Linked DNA regions of Homo sapiens. The protein of the gene in region 1 interacts with the protein of each later gene in a pairwise test. Each region holds a gene or a part of one and is shown in the gene's direction. Other genes may lie near its edges.

The links.
Region 2: the proteins of PTK7 (region 1) and DUSP18 interact in a two-hybrid assay, tested with the Homo sapiens proteins (one study listed by BioGRID and IntAct).
Region 3: the proteins of PTK7 (region 1) and PPM1F interact in a two-hybrid assay, tested with the Homo sapiens proteins (one study listed by BioGRID and IntAct).
Region 4: the proteins of PTK7 (region 1) and STYX interact in a two-hybrid assay, tested with the Homo sapiens proteins (one study listed by BioGRID and IntAct).
Region 5: the proteins of PTK7 (region 1) and CLNK interact in a two-hybrid assay, tested with the Homo sapiens proteins (one large-scale study listed by BioGRID and IntAct).

Annotation. Positions count from the first base shown.
Region 1 is NC_000006.12:43,079,256-43,082,856, forward strand, and holds part of PTK7 (inactive tyrosine-protein kinase 7 isoform a precursor), read left to right. Parts: intron 1-3,601. UniProt on the Homo sapiens protein: Inactive tyrosine kinase involved in Wnt signaling pathway. Component of both the non-canonical (also known as the Wnt/planar cell polarity signaling) and the canonical Wnt signaling pathway.
Region 2 is NC_000022.11:30,660,915-30,664,946, reverse strand, and holds the end of DUSP18 (dual specificity protein phosphatase 18), read left to right. Parts: intron 1-866; 5' UTR 867-943; coding exon 944-1,510; 3' UTR 1,511-3,502; downstream 3,503-4,032. UniProt on the Homo sapiens protein: Can dephosphorylate single and diphosphorylated synthetic MAPK peptides, with preference for the phosphotyrosine and diphosphorylated forms over phosphothreonine. In vitro, dephosphorylates p-nitrophenyl phosphate (pNPP).
Region 3 is NC_000022.11:21,942,841-21,946,441, reverse strand, and holds part of PPM1F (protein phosphatase 1F), read left to right. Parts: intron 1-333; 5' UTR 334-393; coding exon 394-599; intron 600-3,007; exon of another isoform or gene 3,008-3,601. UniProt on the Homo sapiens protein: Dephosphorylates and concomitantly deactivates CaM-kinase II activated upon autophosphorylation, and CaM-kinases IV and I activated upon phosphorylation by CaM-kinase kinase. Promotes apoptosis.
Region 4 is NC_000014.9:52,747,087-52,750,687, forward strand, and holds part of STYX (serine/threonine/tyrosine-interacting protein), read left to right. Parts: intron 1-3,596; coding exon 3,597-3,601. UniProt on the Homo sapiens protein: Catalytically inactive phosphatase. Acts as a nuclear anchor for MAPK1/MAPK3 (ERK1/ERK2). Modulates cell-fate decisions and cell migration by spatiotemporal regulation of MAPK1/MAPK3 (ERK1/ERK2).
Region 5 is NC_000004.12:10,681,896-10,685,934, reverse strand, and holds the start of CLNK (cytokine-dependent hematopoietic cell linker), read left to right. Parts: upstream 1-1,166; 5' UTR 1,167-1,267; intron 1,268-4,039. UniProt on the Homo sapiens protein: An adapter protein which plays a role in the regulation of immunoreceptor signaling, including PLC-gamma-mediated B-cell antigen receptor (BCR) signaling and FC-epsilon R1-mediated mast cell degranulation.

The DNA of each region.
Region 1 (3,601 bases):
AGGAGATTGAGACCATCCTGGCTAACACGGTGAAACCCTGTCTCTACTAAAAATACAAAAAATTAGCCAGGCGTGGTGGCGGGTGCCCGTAGTCCCAGCTACTCGGGAGGCTGAGACAGGAGAATGGCCTGAACCCGGGAGGTGGAGCTTGCAGTGATCGTGCCACTGCACTCCAGCTTGGGCGAGATCGTGCCGAGATCGTGCCACTGCACTCCAGCTTGGGTGACAGAGCGAGACTCCGTCTCAAAAAAAAAAAAAAATCCAAGGGTGCTCAAGTCTCTTATATAAAATGGTGTCGTATTTACATATAACGTACACACAACTTCCCTGTATACTTTTGTTTTGTTTTGTTATGAGACAGGGTCTCCTCTATCACCCAGGCTAGAGTGCAGTGGCACAATCTTGGCTCACTGAAGCCTCAAATTCCTGGGCTCAAGCAGTCTTCCTGCCTCAGTGCTCTAAAGTATGAGGATTACAGGCATGATCCACTATGCCCAGCTTCTCCTGTATACTTTAAATCATCTCTAAGGGCCAGGTTTACGCCTGTTATCCCACCACTTTGGGAGGCAGAGGGAGGAGGATCGCTTGAGCCCAGGGGCTCAAGACCAGCCTTGGCAACACAATGAGACCTCCACCTGTACAAAAAAAAAAAAAAAATTGCCAGGCATGGTGGCACGTGCCTGTGGTCCCAGCTGCCCAGGAGACTGAGGTGGGAGTATTGCCTGAGCCCAGCAGGTTGAGGCTACAGTAAGCCATGATTGTGTCACTGCACTTCGGTCTGGGTGACAGAGTTCAAAAAAAAAAAAAAAAAAAAGGGCAGGATGCAGTGGCTCACGCCTGTAATCCCAGCACTTTGGGAGGCTGAGGTGGGCGGATCATGAGGTTAGGAGAGCGAGACCATCCTGGCTAACATGGTGAAACCCCATCTCTACTAAAAATACAAAAAATTAGCCAGGCGTGGTGGCAGGCGCCTGTAGTCCCAGCTACTTGGGAGGCTGAGGCAGGAGAATGGCGTGAACCCGGGAGGCAGAGCTTGCAGTGAGCCGAGATTGCACCACTGCACTCCAGCCTGGGTGTCAGAGCGAGACTCTGTCTCAAAAAAAACAAAAAAATCTGTAAATTACTTGTAATACCTATTACAATGGAAATGCTATGTAAATAACTGTTGTATTCTTTAATTTGTATTCTTTTTTATTGTTGTATTGTTTTTAATTTTTATCTTCCCCCAGTGTTTTTGATCCTCTGTTGAGGGATGTGGAGCCCAGGGATAAGGAGTATATCTGGCAAAGCAGCAACTCAGACTCATTGGCAGGCCCTGTGGCCCTGGATGAACCTCTTAGCTTCTCAGCCTCTTCTATAAAGGGACATCCTAGAGTTGTGCTGAGGATTAAGTATAATGAAGTAGGCCGGGTGCAGTGGCTCACATCTGTAATCCCAGCACTTTGGGAGGCCAAGGCAGGCGGATCACCTGAGGTCAGGAGTTCAAGACCAGCCTGGACAACATGGTGAAGCCCCGTCTCTACTAAGAATACAAAAATTAGCTGGGTGTGGTGGCACACACCTCTAATCCCATCTACTCAGGAGGCTGAGGCAGGAGAATCACTTGAACCCGGGAGGTGGAGGTTGCAGTGAGCCGAGATCGCGCCGCTGCACTCCAGCCTGGGCGACGGAACGAGACTCCGTCTCAAAAAAAAAAAATACACACACACACACACACACACAGCCCTTTCTTGGTCTTCCCTCTGTGGTGTGCTTCAAAGATTCCTTCAGCTTTACAGTCATTCCCAACAATAGACATTTTACCTACTGGGACCCTCCATTCCAGTCCAGCTGGAATATTTGCCATCTCCTAACACATATCTGGTTTTCTCCCACCTTTCTTTCCTTCGGGCCAGTCCCCGGTTGTACATTGCCTTCTCCTGTCTCTCTGTTGCCCAGCCCCACCGCCTCTTCTTCCCTGAAGCTGTCCTATCTCTCCTGCCAGAAGGTAGACACTGTAGAACTTCTGGACTGTCATTCTTGCGACACCATCCATATTTTTGCCCCTATTGGGTTTTGTTTTAATTTACTGAGGGGCTCTCCCATAGAGTTTAGTACAGTACTTATTTATAATGGGTTCTTATGTAGGTGGTTTTTTTGTTTGTTGTTTGTTTGTTTTTGTTTTTTTTGAAATGGAGTCTGCCTGTGTCTCCCAGGCTGGAGGCATTGGCACGATCTTGGTTCACTGCAACCTCTACCTCCCAGGTTCAAGTGATTCTCCTACCTCAGCCTCCTGAGTACCTGGGTTTACAGGTGTGTGCCACTGCACCCAGCTAATTTTTGTATTTTTAATAGAGACGGGGTTTCCCCATGTTGGCCAGGCTGGTCTCGAACTCCTGACCTCAGGTGATCTGCCCACTTCAGCCTCCCAAAGTGCTGGGATTACAGGCGTGAGCCACTGCACCCAGCCGATATAACAGGTCCTCATATAGGTTTATTTAAAAAGTGAATGAACCATTTGGGTGCAGGGCAGAATGATCAAGGGTGGAGTTAAATATCCCCTTGCATCCTAGGCATGGGGAGTCTTTTGCACCCTCCCCAGCTTCTTTGAGTTGGGGTTGCCTGTTCCTCCTTGCGCCTGCTCTACGGTGACCAAATTAAGGATCAGACCTTCCTTCCCTGATCCTGGGCTGGCTGGTTTTGGTGGTGGTTTTTCTCAGTTTTGATGTGGTGGGTCTTCTAGCTTTCTCCAAGTTCTGTGCGTGGGTAAGCACCGCTACGTATGAAGCTGACTGCAACTTAAAAACTGGTGCTAAAGTTGCTTCCTCAGAGAACTGGGTAGGGGCCTAGAGTATCTATAACTGTGCTACTTGAAGAAAGACCCAGGGCCACGTGGCATCAGCATTCCTGGGAGCATGAATCAGAATCGCAATCTGCAATTTATTTATTTATTCTTTTTGAGATGGAGTCTCACTCTGTCGCCCAGGCTGAAGTGCAGTGGCACGATCTTGGCTCACTGCAACCTCCACCTCCTGGGTTCAAGCGATTCTCCTGCCTCAGCCTCCTGAGCAGCTGGGATTACAGGCGCGCACCACCACGCCAGGCTAATTTTTTTGTATTTTTAGTAGAGACAGGGTTTCACCATGTTGGTCAGGCTGGTCTCGAACTCCTGACTTCATGATCCGCCCACCTCAGCCTCCCAAAGTGCTGGGATTACAGGCGTGAGCCACCGTGCCCTGCTGCAATCTGCATTTTAACAAGATGCTCAGGTGACTCTGTACCCCAGAGTTCCAGAAGTCCTGGCCTAGGCATCCTTCTTTATACAGAATCTCAAGGCACAGAGCTTTCCTGTTGCAACAGTATAAATTGGGAGCTGAGATGCTGCACAGTATTTGAAGATTTGCTTTAAATAACTCACTTTATGCGAACACTCCTTGGGGTGATGTGTACGCTTTAATATTACCTCCTTTGGGTTTAAATTGAATTAGATTTTGTCAAGAAATTTCTCCATTAAATGTGTGACTCTAGGAAGTCTGCAATATTCAGCCTGATGTTTAGCTCCTCTCAGAACCTCAGCTTTTCCTAGAGGAGAATACGGCTGATTTTATAACGAAAGCCAGTG
Region 2 (4,032 bases), on another chromosome or scaffold:
AAGGGGTCTGCCTCTCCCTGGGGTGTGTTTCACAGCTCTGCTGCAGGCAGCATGATGCAGGTGTGGCAGGTCTTCCTAAGGCCCTGCTGTCTCTGTGCTTGTCCCTGGGGTTGCTGTGGTGCCCATTATGCTGGCTTCCAGGAAGCTTTCAGCCACTCCCTTTCCCAGGCCTTCTTCAGAGGCAAGGTGCAGGAGCATGTCTAACAATTTAGGACTTTGTATTTGACATCAGCTTCGCATGGGCATATCCTGTCTCTTTAAAGAGATGGTTCTTAGAGGGGGAAAATGGGAACCCTCCCTACTCTTATACCAGCCTCCTCAGTGACTGCCAGCACAGTGGGCTCTGGTTCCATGCCACTGGCTCAGGACCTTATGATTTGGGCATAAAGTCAGAAGACTGAGGAGGAAGACTGTACAAATGGTTCCCACTCAGAGGGGCTGGAAGGAAGGAGAGAATTTGGAAGAGCAGCAAGAAAAGGGCTCTGTGAGCTTAAATGGAGAATCAGGCCAAGGCACAGCTGAGGGACACAAGTCATCTGCCCAACTAGAGCTGTGGGACCCCTCAAGGGAGGCCTCAAGTGCCAGACTTGGGGACTTGCCATTTGTCCTATAGGGCAGTGCACATTAGACCACCTGAGAAGCATGCTGAAAATGCAGATTCATGCTCTTCACCCCGAGAGTCTGACTGTGGGTTTGGAGAGGGACCTGGGTATCTGTACTTTAAATGAGTTTGCTGGGTAGTTCTGCTGTGATGGTCAGAGGACTGCCTTGGGGAATGCTATAAGCCTATCCATCCATTTCCCAGGGATCCCCTGGAATTGGCCCTCTGGGCACCTGCCCTCTAAACATCCTCTCCCTCTCTGCAGTTTTCCATGGACACAGCCTAGCAGAAAGACGCAGCCTTCGTGCTTCGCTGACTGCTGACCACTGACCCACCGCCTTGATGACAGCACCCTCGTGTGCCTTCCCAGTTCAGTTCCGGCAGCCCTCAGTCAGCGGCCTCTCGCAGATAACCAAAAGCCTGTATATCAGCAATGGTGTGGCCGCCAACAACAAGCTCATGCTGTCTAGCAACCAGATCACCATGGTCATCAATGTCTCAGTGGAGGTAGTGAACACCTTGTATGAGGATATCCAGTACATGCAGGTACCTGTGGCTGACTCCCCTAACTCACGTCTCTGTGACTTCTTTGACCCTATTGCTGACCATATCCACAGCGTGGAGATGAAGCAGGGCCGTACTTTGCTGCACTGTGCTGCTGGTGTGAGCCGCTCAGCTGCCCTGTGCCTCGCCTACCTCATGAAGTACCACGCCATGTCCCTGCTGGACGCCCACACGTGGACCAAGTCATGCCGGCCCATCATCCGACCCAACAGCGGCTTTTGGGAGCAGCTCATCCACTATGAGTTCCAATTGTTTGGCAAGAACACTGTGCACATGGTCAGTTCCCCAGTGGGAATGATCCCTGACATCTATGAGAAGGAAGTCCGTTTGATGATTCCACTGTGAGCCATCCCACGAGCCCCTGCATTGGAGTCAGAGGTACAGATCTATTGTTGATCTTACACCAAGATCCAAACTTGAACATTCTACTTTTGTTGATACAGAAAAAAACAGATGATGCCTTTTATGAGCACAAAAAAGAGTTGCTGTAGCTTTTAACTTTATAATCCATTTTTTTTAAGATTAAACTAATTGTGAGATGGTGAAGATAAATTTTCTGCCCTGTGAGTGACACTGGCCAGGGGATAGGTTGAGGCAGATGGTGCCCAGAAGAAAGAGGGCAGCACCCATTGCACATGGCAGGCCTGGAATCCTGCAGCCCTCCCCAAAAACAGATTGACCCAGGAATGAATCTGCTACAATTCCACCTCATTCTTTCACACCCAGAGCCAGAGCCTTAAGCATCATGGTACCTCTTGCGCTTCTTACAGTGAGTGCCAATCTACTAGATAAATGGCCTTCAGGCAGTGCTCCAGGAATCCTGGGGGGTCCCAGGCCACCTCTGCTTCCACCTTCACTATAAGTGGCCCAGTTCTGGTTTTCTAGATTGTACTTATGCATAAGATAGTTTTTAAAGAAAGCATTCCACTGTGTAAATTTTTTTTTGTCTTTTTTTGAAACTGTCCTGCTCTGTCACCCATCCTAGAGTGCAGTAGTGTGATCATGGCTCACTGTAGCCACAACCTCTCAGGCTCAAGTGATCCTCTTACCTTAGCCTCCTGCGTGGCTGGGACTACAGATGTTTGCCACCATGCCCGCCTCATTTTTTTTCTTTTTTTATAGAGATGAGATTTTACTATGTCGCCCAGACTGGTCTCAAACTCCTGGCCTCAAGCAATCCTCACGCCTCAGCCTCCCAAAGTGTTGATGAGCCACTGTACCCCGATACCACTGTATAAAAAATTTAAAAAAAATTGTGAGTGCTATTGTACATGGCAAAGTTTCAAAGAGCTCTTGGCCATCCCTCACCAAACTTTGGCAAAAGATGGTGTTAGTCCCCTTCTCCAGGGCACATGAGAAAAACAGGCCTAACATCAGGTCTCAGCGGTTCCTCTCACAGGCCTTGGCTTGGAAGGCTGGAGCTTCGGACCAAGGCCCAGCCCTGTCACCTCCTCTTCATGTGATGTGGACCCCTGGGAGCATCAGTGTCCTCATCTGTCCAATGACAGCCCTTTTCTCACAGAGTTATTGTGAAGATTCAACAATTTCTTGGCATAGTGCCTGGCACATGGTGTGTGCTTAGCGCAAATGGCAGCTCTCATCATGAATGATAGACTCTTTCACCCTGCTGGTCCCAGGTCGGCACACACATCCCCATAATGGCATTTCTCCTTTCTGTGCACAGCACTTTATTGTTACAAAGTACTCTTCCAAAAAGTTACCCTGTGTGTAAAAAAAAAAAAAAAAAAAAATGGTTTAAGTCCTTTCAGACCCTACCTCACAGGAGGCCTAGACTTAGAGCCTTTTGAGAGCTTCCGTCTTGTTTAATCTAGGTGCAATCTAGAGGTCCTGAAACAAGGAGCACAGTTCCAGCTTCCCCCAATCACTTCTAAACAGTGACTGCAGCCTTGTTTAGAATCACTATGAAAACCTGCACCCCGGCTGACTACTGGGATCCATAAGGGGGCCGTGTCAAAGGGACTAACTAGTGGACTCCATCAGTAGGCCCTGGAATTCAGGATTGTTCACATCCTCTTGGTGCCAAGGACCTGGCTGAAGACCAGCTCTTCTGATCCAGAGGTTTTCAGCAAACAGCATTTGAAACAAAAGCACAGCTGCTCTGTTTGACACCAAACTGTGGCTCCAGATTCCAGTAGAAGCCAAATGCTTTTTCTTTTAACAGCTGGGTGCCTGTAATCCCAGTTACTTGGGAGGCTGAGGCAGGAGAATTGCTTGAACCCAGGAGGCGGAGGTTGCAGTGAGCCGAGCTTGCACCATTGCACTCCAGCCTGGGCAACAAGAGTGAGACTCCATCTCAAAAAGAAAAAAAAAAAAAAAGAAAAAGAAAAGAAAAAAAGAAATGCTTGGGACCAGAAATATTTTGGATTATTTTCAGGTTAATATTTGCTTTACCTGAAGCAAATATTACTTGAGCATCCCAACTCTAAAATCCAGAATGCTTAAATGAGTATTTCCTTTGATAGTCATTTCAGCTCTCAAAAAGTTTTAGATTTTGAGCATTTCACATTTTTGGATTTGAGATCCATGAATGGGTCTCAAACTATATTTCACTTGGCGGGGGGGTGGCTATTGTAGATTTTTTTTCCAATTGCTCATTATTAGTATATAGAAATACAATTGAGGCCGGGCGTGGTGGCTCATGCCTGTAATCCCAACACTTTGGGAGGCCGAGGTGGCCAGATCACTTGAGGTCAAGTGTTCGAGACCAGCCTGGCCAACATGGCAAAAGCCTTGTCTCTGCTAAAAATACGAAAGCAGGGCGTAGTGGCAAGTGCCTGTAATCCCAGCTACTGAGATTAGAGAATGAAACAGGAGAATTACTTGAACCCGGGAGGCAGAGGTTGCAG
Region 3 (3,601 bases), on another chromosome or scaffold:
TCACCTACCTCAGTGCCTGGCCTCGGCATCCCTGTCCTGCTCGTCTCTGGCCACGCTGGCCACCCTCTGCCAGGAACAGTCTTCCTCCTCTGTCACTTCTTGACAATGTCCACCCAGCTGCTGCTCCTGGCACCATCTCCTGAGACCGGATCTCTGGATGCCCACAAGTCCCCACCTGGACTCATGTCAAAACAGTGGCCAGGGTTGTCCCTCCACCCTCTAGTGGCCCTGAACCATGAGGCCATGCACCTGCCACATGGTGCTTGCAGGTGGGCACCTGCATTGCTGGTGCCATGGCCCCCTGATTCTGCTGACTCTGACATTTCTCCCCAGGGTGAAGCCTGGAGACCCTCTTGCCCTGGCCTAGCTGCAGGCCCCCGGGATGCTTTGGGCATGTCCTCTGGAGCCCCACAGAAGAGCAGCCCAATGGCCAGTGGAGCTGAGGAGACCCCAGGCTTCCTGGACACGCTCCTGCAAGACTTCCCAGCCCTGCTGAACCCAGAGGACCCTCTGCCATGGAAGGCCCCAGGGACGGTGCTCAGCCAGGAGGAGGTGGAGGGCGAGCTGGCTGAGCTGGCCATGGGCTTTCTGGGCAGCAGGTAGGCCTGTGCACCCCCAAAGGGGACGGGGAGTAAGGGCACGGCACCAGGGCCGACAAGGGATGTGGCTGCTGCTCCCCTACACGTCCAGCCCCACACGGGGATCTGCAGCCCCGGATCCCTATGCAGCACCATGTGGAACTCCCGTGGCTGCTATGGCAAAGCACCACACACTGGGCACTCAACACAGCCAAAGCTCATTCTTTCACAGGGCTGGAGGCCAGAGTCCAAGATCAAGGTGGCAGCTGCGCCATGCTCTCTCAAAGGCTGCAGGGAAGAGTCTGCCTTTCTGTTAGTGCCTGGCCTTGACTTCCTGGAGGTCCTTGGCTTGTAGACTCATTCCTCCTAGCTGGCCTTGTTGCACACGGCATCTCCCCATGTGTGTGTCTGTGCCTTCACACCTCCCCACCCTGCCTGCTGTGTGTCTGTGACTCCTCCTCTTGTAAGGACATGGGCATTTTGGACCAGGGGCTGCCCTCCTACAGTGTGATCTCATCTTTCTTTTTGTGGAGAATGGGGTCTCGCTATGCTGCCCAGGCTGGTCTCGAATTTCTGGGCTCCATGGATCCTCATGTTTTTGCCTCCCTAAATGCTGGGATTACAGGCATGAGCCACTCCAGCCAATGTGACCTCATGTGAACATAACTAATTACATTTGCAAAGACTTTAACTCCAAATAAGATCATATTCTGAGCCACAGGGGGCTGGGGCTTCAACATACCTTTTAGGGAACACAATTTATTGCATAGCAGCTGATAAGCAGTACGTCCTGTTTCCGATCCGTGTGATGGACGAGGAGGCAGAGGTGGGTAGATGAAGAGGCTGGCCTGAGGCCTTACAGTCAAGGAGTGGCAGAGCCACATGGCACCCCAGCCACCACGATCTGAGAGATAGCTGGCACTGTCCCCCTTCCACAGGTGAGGAAGCTGAGGCACAGAGAGGTAGCACAACTAGCCGAGCAGATTTCGGGGAAGATAGAGAGTTGGGTGTCCACCGGCAGACAGTGTGTAGCTGTCGCCTAGGCTGAACTCAGAGGTCCTTTCCTTGGAAGACCCTTGCCCTCCCCTTCATTTATTCATTCATTCTGGAAGCATTTGTCCCATGAAAGATGGTGAAGGACAAGGTCTTTTCTCGAACCCTCTCTGCTCAGACAGGGTCTTGGAGTTAGGCTGTCTGTCTGGCACAGGGGACAGCTCATGGAGGTGAGCAGGCTGGTGGGCCGCGTGCTGTTTCTGTGAACCTAGTCCCTTGCTGAGGGGATGTGCGCATGGTCCCCAGTCCCAGCATCACCCAAATCACCTGAAATATCACCTGAAGCCATGACAGGCCCTCAGCCATAGCTCCCTCTGACAGAGCCACCATCCTCGGTGGCTGCCTCAGTATCCCCCAAGTGTGCACTTCCTTTGCCCCTTGCAGCGAATCAACTCTGTTCCTGACACCCACCAAGGGCCTATTTTCCTTGACCCCAGGCCCTAGCAGAGTCAGTGACTTGTGCTCTCCCTGTGCAACATGGGCACAAACATTGCTAAGTGTCAGCCACATGCAAGGGCTATGCCACCCAGCATCCCCCACAGCTGCCTAGAGCTCAGGAGGAAATGTCCGGTGACCACGCTCCATGAGGTCATGGCATGCGCAAAGGGTGTTATTGGCTTGTTTTGAGGAAATATTTTAGATATGTGGCACAAAGTGAATCAGCCCCCAGTGGTGGAGCAGAGTGGGCCCAGCAGGGGTGCCAATGCACGGGAGGTGAGGAAAGGCCTCACGTTCTGCCTTCTTGAGAGGAGCAGGTGGCACTCTGCAGGGAGCAGGGGAGTCCAGACCAGGGAGTTCTGCAGCCACTGGGTCTTCGTGGAGGTGGCATGGGGCCATTGCTGCCTTGAGGCAAAAAGCCAGGCCCGGGACAGAAGGGTTGGTGCACTTTGGCCCAAGCATGAGGTGACCGGGCAAAGCCAAGCGGTGCCAGCCCCAAGCTGGGGATCAGATGGAAAAGCCATCCCGGGGAACAACAGAGCCCAGGGGTTTGCTGGGCCTGCGTGGGGCACAGGTGCTGAAGACGGACAGGCCGCAGCACCGGGGTGACAACATCAGCCTTCAGTTCCTGGGCAGGGGGAGAAGGGCGCAGAGCAGGGTCCCAGGGAAGGATCCAAGGTGGGAGGGCCTGGAGGGCTGAGGAGTGAGTAGGCAGTGCAGGTGACCTGCCCAGGAGGGCCCCGAACCAAAGTGTTGGGGTCAGTGCTGGGGGCGCAGGGGAGGGCAGTGGGTTTTGGTTTTGATGCGAGAGCAGCCAGACTTGTTGAGCGGCTGCTGTGTGAGCCACCTAGTGATGGGTGCGAGCAGGAGGGGTGCAGAGCTCCCGAGTCTCCTCAGCCCCCAGGAACCCACCTTACATGGTGAACTAAAATGGAGTATTTGAAGTTGTTATATGTTCCAGCCATCTTATTGGATTTATTTTTTAAGTTATTTTTGTTCTTTTCTAGCATCTTCTTTCACACGCAGGTGTGGATGTGCATAGGTGTAGTCAGCACTTGGGGTCTGAGCCTCACACGTTGTCTACACTAAGCCTGGCTGTCCACACACACGCACTCACATGTGCCCATACACAGTCACGAGTTCCACCTCCGAGCTCTGCTTCCCGTGTCCCAGCCTGAGGAGGGGCTCTTGGGCATGAAGGGCTTTGAGCATCTTGGTCCCTGAGCTCTTTCACAGACCGTAAAAGGCATCCTTCTGGAGGCCATCCAGGAGTCAGAACATCCAGTCCACAGGGGGCTATTTACGCCTTGTCTCCGCTCTTGTTTGGAGCCTCCTGTCACATATTTGAGTCCCTGAGCAGTGCATACCGTACACTAATGATTTGAGTGTGGTTTTTGTCTCTGCCACTAGACTATAAGCCTCTTGTAACAGCCCCTGCCCCAAGGTCGGTGAGACGTGTTTCTCAGGCACCTGGGCCTTGCATACACCTTGGCTTGTCCCTGGAGCATCTTCTTGCCTTGTGTAGGAGCCTG
Region 4 (3,601 bases), on another chromosome or scaffold:
AAACTCTGAAATATTTCTGGTCCCTGGCATTTTAAATAAGGGATATTCAATCCGTATAGATATTCTACATAGTCAAACTTTAATGGACTTACTCAGTTGCAGTTAAAATAGGTAGATCTCATTTTAATAAATATAGCAATGTTCTTGCCACTTCTAAAAGATTCAATGCTACTAATTCTCTTTGAGTTACAACGTGGAACATATCATAGATGTCTTTCCCCAATACTTTGCCTATTCAGAAGTCAGTATACTTAAATTGTGTTTGATATATCCATAATTTAATTTGATGTTCTTAGGAATTTAACCGGTTTTAAAAGGTCATTGATTTTGAAACTGGAAGATTTTTTTGACAGTTGAGACATGGCTAAGAGTAAACCTGGTCATCTTGATGATTTTTGCTTAGTTGGAAAGATAGGGAGTTAGTAAAAATAAGTACTAGGGAAAGGATAGGGCAGGTAACTATAGACATAGCCGTAATTTATTTTGTAAAAGACAGATGTAAACAAGGTTATTGTCCATATAATTTGCTATTCACCAAGTACTAGTCTTCCAGATGGTTTTAGATAATTTACATTTTTGAAATTCCCACTGTACTTTATAAATATACATACAGTATTTATCACATTAAATTAAAGTATTTGTTTAAAGGTCTATCTCCTCAATGGGAGGCTGAGGCAGGCGGATTACATGAGGCCAGGAGTTCGAGACCAGCCTGGCCAACATGGCAAAACCCCGTCTCTACTAAAAATACAAAAATTAGCTGGTTATGGTGGTACACACCTGTAATCCCAGCTACTCGCGAGGCTGAGGCGCGAGAATTGCTTGAATCTGGGAGGTAGAAGTTGCAGTGAGCCAACATGGCACCACTGTACTCCAGCCTGGTTGACGGAGTGAGACTTTGTCTCAAAATGAAACAAAAACACGCACAAAAAAAGGTCTAGTTCTTCAAAACTTCTTTTCTTGAAATGTCACCATGGTCTTATTAGACAGGAAAAGCCTCTGTGGCAGTTTATTTCCCACCCTAGGTAACCATAATATAGCCCATATTTCTTTTCATACCATTATCTAAAAACAACAACAAAAAATAATAATGGAGATAAACCTAAATGGATAAACTCCTTTTTAAACACTCATTTACTGTTATTATTTTGTGGGAGAGGAGTGGGGTCTTGCTCTGTTACCCAGGCTGGAGTACAGTGGCGCGCTCTCATAGCTCACTGTAACCTCAAACTCCTGGGCTCAAGCTGTCTTCCCACCTTAGTCTCCCAAGTAGCCAGGACTACGGGCACACACCACCATGCCTGGCTTAATTCTCAAAGTTTTTGTAGAGATGGAGTCTGGCTATGCTGGCCACATTTACTTAAGTATATCTTTTTATTAAATTCAAATACAGTTTAAATAAAAGGGACAAATTTAGGGCCTTTGTAATTAGTAAACGGTTTGTTTTTGTAAAGTTTTTCTACTGTTTTTAAATGTGAGGTAAGGTCATAATTTGCTTCATATTAGGTTGGTGCAAAAGTAATTGCAGATCTGCCTCTGAAAAGTACAAAATCTATTCGCTGTTACGTTAGGGCTCTATTTTGATAGTTTATTTTTATTTAGTAGTAGTCTATTGGGCCTTCAAAACTTGTTTAAGCATATTTATACATAATTATGTGCATCGTCTTGTGCTTTCTCACATTCATAAAGTAGATAGGAAAACTCCATAGGCATCAAGTGTAAACGAAGGACTTAATGTTGAATTTGTTGTGGAAATTGGCACAAATCTCAATATAGAACATTGGTTAATTATTAATCTTACCAAATGCTTATCTCACTTTCCCTAACTCAAGTTATACTCAAGAAATACAAAGATAATTGAATTCTAATCTATGCTGACATAAAACTTGCTGCAGAAATTAACACTTAAAACTTGCAAATTATATTGTCTTAGCCCAGGCTGCTCAAACAAAATACCATAGACAGGGTGGCTTAAACAACAGACGATTATTTGAGTTCTGGAGGCTGGCAAGTCCACAGTCATGGTCCGGCTCTGGTGAGGACCCTCTTGCTGGCTCGCAGATCCCTCCCTTCTTGCTGTATCCTCACACGGCCAAGAGAACGAGTTCTTGCCTCTTCTTACAAGGGTACAATCCTGTCATGGAGGTTTCTACCCTCATGACCTCAATCTAAAACTGATTATCTTCCAGAGACTCCACCATCACATCTTGGGGGTAAGGATTTCAACATAAGAATTTGAGGTGATGCAAACATTTAGTTCATAACACATATAAATTATTTTTTTTTACTTTGCTCATGAATTATTAGTGCTACTGTTTTGTACTATTTAAAATGCAGAAAATGGGAATTAAATATATAGGATTTAAAACAATGTGTCAAGAAATTCAAGGTTATCTGATTCTCATGCCATCGTGACTTGTTAGTTCATTTATTGAACAGGTAATTATTGAACAACTTAACTAGTTATACATACTTGATACTTAAGTGAATTGTATTATACATTTTACACATACTATGTATCAGTGAACAAATAAAAATCTTTTCTGTCATGGAACTTAATGCTCTAGGTAATAAAATAACATCTATAAACTCACTTAAACTTATCACTAGCAAATGAAAACTTATTATCTGGTAATTTCTAGAATTGTCATGTTAAATTGCTTTAAGTATGGAGCCAAAAGCACTACAGGTTGAGTATCCCTAATCTGAAAAATCTGAAATGCTCCAAAGTGAAACTTTTTGAGTGTCAGCATGACAGCACAAGTGAATTCCACACCTGACCCCATGTAATGGGTCACTGTCAAAATTTTGTTTCATGCACCAAATGACTGTATGAAATTACGTTCAGAGTATATATGGTGTGTGTGAAACATAAATGAATTTTGTGTTTAAACTTGGATACCATCCCCAAGACATCTGAGTATGTATATGCAAATATTTCAAAATCTGAAATCTGAAACACTTCTGGTCCTACCTTGGGACCAGCATTTTAGATAAGGGATACTCAACCTGTATTGAATATAATAAGATGTCATTGAAGTTGCCATTTTTAACTTCAGGAAAATTTTTAAATGGTAAAAGGTTAATTAGATTCTGTGAAGTATGTAAATTAATTCTGACTCTTAAAGTATACTGGGAGAGGCAAGGAGTTGTCTAGAGATTTGGGTTCCAGTACTGCTGTTAACTAGGTCGGTGATGTCCAAGTATTTGGTAATGTAACTGTTTTATGTCTTAGTGGTTCTCTCTAAACAATAAAGATTGCAGTCAATATATATTAACTACCATTTATTAAACACTTGCTGTGTGTCCCAGGTGCTATGCCAAACATCTTACATAAAGGTTCCATCAAGCTCTAAAATTGTAGGTATGAAATATCCCTGTTAACCTTTTGAGGACATTAATGTATTAATCTTGAATCATTGAAATATCTTGCTGCCCACTTCAGGTATATTATAAAATTAGCTTTAATTCCCTGGACTTAAGCAGAGATGTGGGTTCTGTGTATTTTCAAACATCTGTGTTATATAGTAAGATGATGTTTGATATTTTAAAATATTTATCTTCCCTGTCCTCCCCCTGCTTTTTTTTTTATACAGCTACC
Region 5 (4,039 bases), on another chromosome or scaffold:
CACAATTATGAACTAAATAAAGTGGTTACTGCTTTAAGCCCCTAATGCAGCAAAAGCTAATTAATAAAGTGGTTAAACTACTCGAGTCTCCCTAGTCTTCAGTTTTCACAATTACAAAATGGGATTTTACATATGTTCCTTACATGGTTATTAGTAAGATTAAGGAGGATAATGCTTGCAAGTTGCTTAGCAATGTAACTGACTCACAATTAGCATTCAAAGAGTGCTTATTTTCATGTTTTCCTTGGGGTGTCTGTTAAGTCAAAACCAGAGTTATTTACCCAAGAAAATATAAACTTCTACCTTTGAATTTATTGTAAATAATGTTGGAGTTTGTTATGGAATTCAACATCAATTTATATAAAACTAGAATGTCAAGTCTCCAGAAGAGGAAACAGGCACTCGGCAAGATCAGCTTAAATGGACCAAGATTAAGGCCGAAAGAAAATGTATTAAGCAACTGATATGTGCCCAAACATTACTGCATGCCTTTATTTACAATATTTTGTTTATTTATTGAAATACTTCTAAAATATAAATATTATCCTTCCATCACAATTGAGGAAATATCATTTCCTCAATGAAGGAAATATAATCCTCAATTATCCCTCATTTTTTAAAAAAGTTTCTAAAATACAAATATTATTATCACTCAAACTACTTGAGAAATAAACTTCAAAGTGCCCAAGATCCTATAGCTAATAATTAATACAGCAAGAATAAGAGGCAGGCATTTCTCCTTTAGTTCCCAGGTTCTTTCCTTAACACCTGGTCCATGTGTCTGGGATGGTCTCAGGAAGCCATTGCAAAATTAAGCCAAAAGATGATAGTTAATGTCCACTATTCATATAAAGTGAGACTCGCAAAACCCACCTTCCATGCTTGAGTGTTGCCCAGCAGTTCCTTTTATTGTGTTCTGGTAACTATGAAGTGCCACATAAGGACACCGTGTGTCTTTAAAAACACCCTTTGCATTGGAAGATTTCAGCCTCTGAAAGCTTCACGTATTGCACTCCAGCCTAAGAAGAGGAAGTCCTGCCAGCCCTCAGGTCAGACCTCTCAGGTCTGTGGCTGCATTTCACAGGAAACCAAGTCTAAAACGGACCTATCAGGAGGTTTTCTGCTGAAGGGCACTGCTTAGCATCGAGAAGAATTCAACCCACCGCCTTACTAATTTCCAGTGCCCCAAGGTCTCTGCACTGCCGCCCCTCCTCACAGGAGACGGACACCTCAGCCTAGATCCCTTGGTGCTCTCCACGCTGTTCAGGTAAACTCATTAGGCCAGTTCTTCTGAGTGAGGATCTCATGGTCATCTCCTTGTCATAAATGATCATCAGGAAAGACCTGAGCAGCAAGTAAAAATGTGTTTCTAAAGTGGAAGTCTGGGCCTTATATATAGCATCAAAGGAGCAAGAAGAAAGCCCTTAACTCAATTGTTAAAGATCCTTTCATTCTTTTGGGAGAAAGAATCAGGATACCTACCCACAGAAAATTAAAAGACTAAATGTTTTCAATCTTCTTTTCCTGGAGCTTGGACTCCCCGACTGTTTGCAACTGAAATCTAAAGACCAGGCCCCATGGCTGGCTTTCCTGGCTGACCTTCATTAAGTAAGCCCTCTAGAAAGAAAGCCTCCATTCAAAGTAGGTCATTCAAAGTATAAGTTAACTCCTGGAGCCCTGTGGAAATATATTTTTAACATTTTCTAAAGTAATACGATTTTCTTTCTGCTTTGGTGTAGAGGAGACTTAGACTTTGGAATCACGCAGACATCCTTCCACTCACAAGAGTAAGGAGCTCAAAAGTGAGGTTAAAGTTGGGGTTAAATTCTTACTCTTGAAAAGTGCCGGGAGTCATCTCTACCAGGCTTTTATTGGATAAAGCAAACAAACTGGAATGAGACAGAAAAGAAAATAACTATCATCAAAATATGGATACTTTGATTTTAAAAGGTGTCGATATGCCTGAACTTTTTATCAATACTGTTTTTATTACTTTACACCAGTGTTACTCATTTGGCTTCTCTGTTATGAGTATTACTTGTCTATTACCTACATGGCTATTTCTCTGGCTGTCTCTGTCTATACTGTGGCGCAGCTCCTCAATAGTGTTGTTCTTTGGATTTCCAGGGGCCTCCCAAACCACCAGGAATAATCATTTCAAATATCAAGAAGACGATGGTAGAGCTGGTTAATTGAAGGCCTACCAGAGAAATGACAGCGCTTCAGAAATCCTCTAAGAAGCTTAAGATACAGTATGCCCTAGAGAAGTAGGAATGGCAACTGGCATTTACTTACCTTCAGCTCCTGCTGACCTAGAGAGCTGGCTATTACTTTCCCTGGTTTACAGGTGAAGAACTTGAGTTCTCTAAGTAATATGTGCAAGGTTGTTCAGTCACTAATGTCAGTAACAGAATTCAGAAGGAAACTGATTTTCCTGGCTGACTGATTGGAATGGTGAACAGTGTTAGTTTGCAGTTTCACAGAGCTCATCCCTAAACTCACTCCTGGGTGGTCTCTGACACCAACCATCTAAATGGTAGTATTTCTTTGTTATTCCCAACAAGCCCTCTCAGATGACTGTATAGGCAAGACCATTTGAAAGCCAGTGCTTATAATCTTCTGTACCATCTGGCCAGCTCTGGCCTGAACACCAGGGGATTCTGTTTCTCGATCACTTTGCCATGAGTCAGGTGCTGTCTTAGAAAGACTGTAGGATTTGACGCCTGATCAAAATGGTGAGGATCCTGACTCTGCCACTTGGACCAGGGATGTTGTTTCATATATGATCCTCATTTCCTCCCCCTTTTTAATAAAGTAAGATCTCATAAGACTTGTATTGACAATTATTTAGCCTCAATAATATAATATTTATATTACGTGAAATATGGTGCATTCTTAACACTTAGCAAGTATTCAGTAAGTGTTGACTTCTTTCTCCATTACTTTCCTTTCCTCACTCCAAATCAGTTCTGATTTTATTCTTAAAACATGACCACAATCAACATAGAATTGATTAATACACATAAGTTTACAAATATTGTATTTTAATAATCTCATTAGAGAATGGTAATATTCCACAGTTGTATAGCCCTATGTAATGTAGGCCTTTGAATACATATTTTCTTCTTGAATGATCTTAACAGCTTAATGAAGTAGGCAGAGCACGTATTAGAGCATTTAAAAGGTGAAACTGGGGCTTAGAAAAGATGAGGAAGGACAACATGGTGAAATGGAAAGAAACAGGGCTTTGAGATTGTCAAAAATGGACATGAATCTAGTGTGTGACTTTACTGTTCGTCTTTAGGTAAGTAGCTTAACCTCTCTGATCTTTAGTTAGCTGTTGTTGGAGTTGTGTAATTTGAAACTGGGAGGAAGAATACATTTTGTGTGTTGCTTCGAGAGTGAGAGCAAATGTGCACACAGTGTCTGACACAGAAGAGATAGCCAGGAACTGGCTAAATTTTCACATGAAGAGTAGCAGACAGAGATCTAGAAGCATCCTTTTCTGAATCCTAGTACATGGAGCAGTTATATCCACTGTCATAAGCTACTGCCAACATCTGCCAAGACTTGAGTTCTGCAGAGTTCTTCTAGGCTGTACCTACCCTCCTAGCATGACAAAGAAACATAAAGTGTTCAAAGCGGCTAAATTACTAACCAGAGAGATAAATACCTGAATTTAAATTCTATTTATGATTTTTAACAGATTAAACCAAACATTCACGATTTTACCAATAAAACTGAGAAGCATCAGGTTAGATATCAGCAATAACGAAAAAATCACACACACACACACACACATACACACACACAAACAGAATTGTGGAATAGAGCTATCATAGGACCAATTTTTGTGTTTATTATTTATTTTTTGTTACTCTTATGGGCAGAATATTTGGGAATCATTATTGTGATTATTCTGCTTAATTTTAATCATGTCTTCCAAAGAGCAATGACTTACAGGTTACCATTTAAGTGTTGCTGATAGACAAGAAACGCTCATCATTTCTCACTTTTTAAGTAGGTGTACTTAATTCTT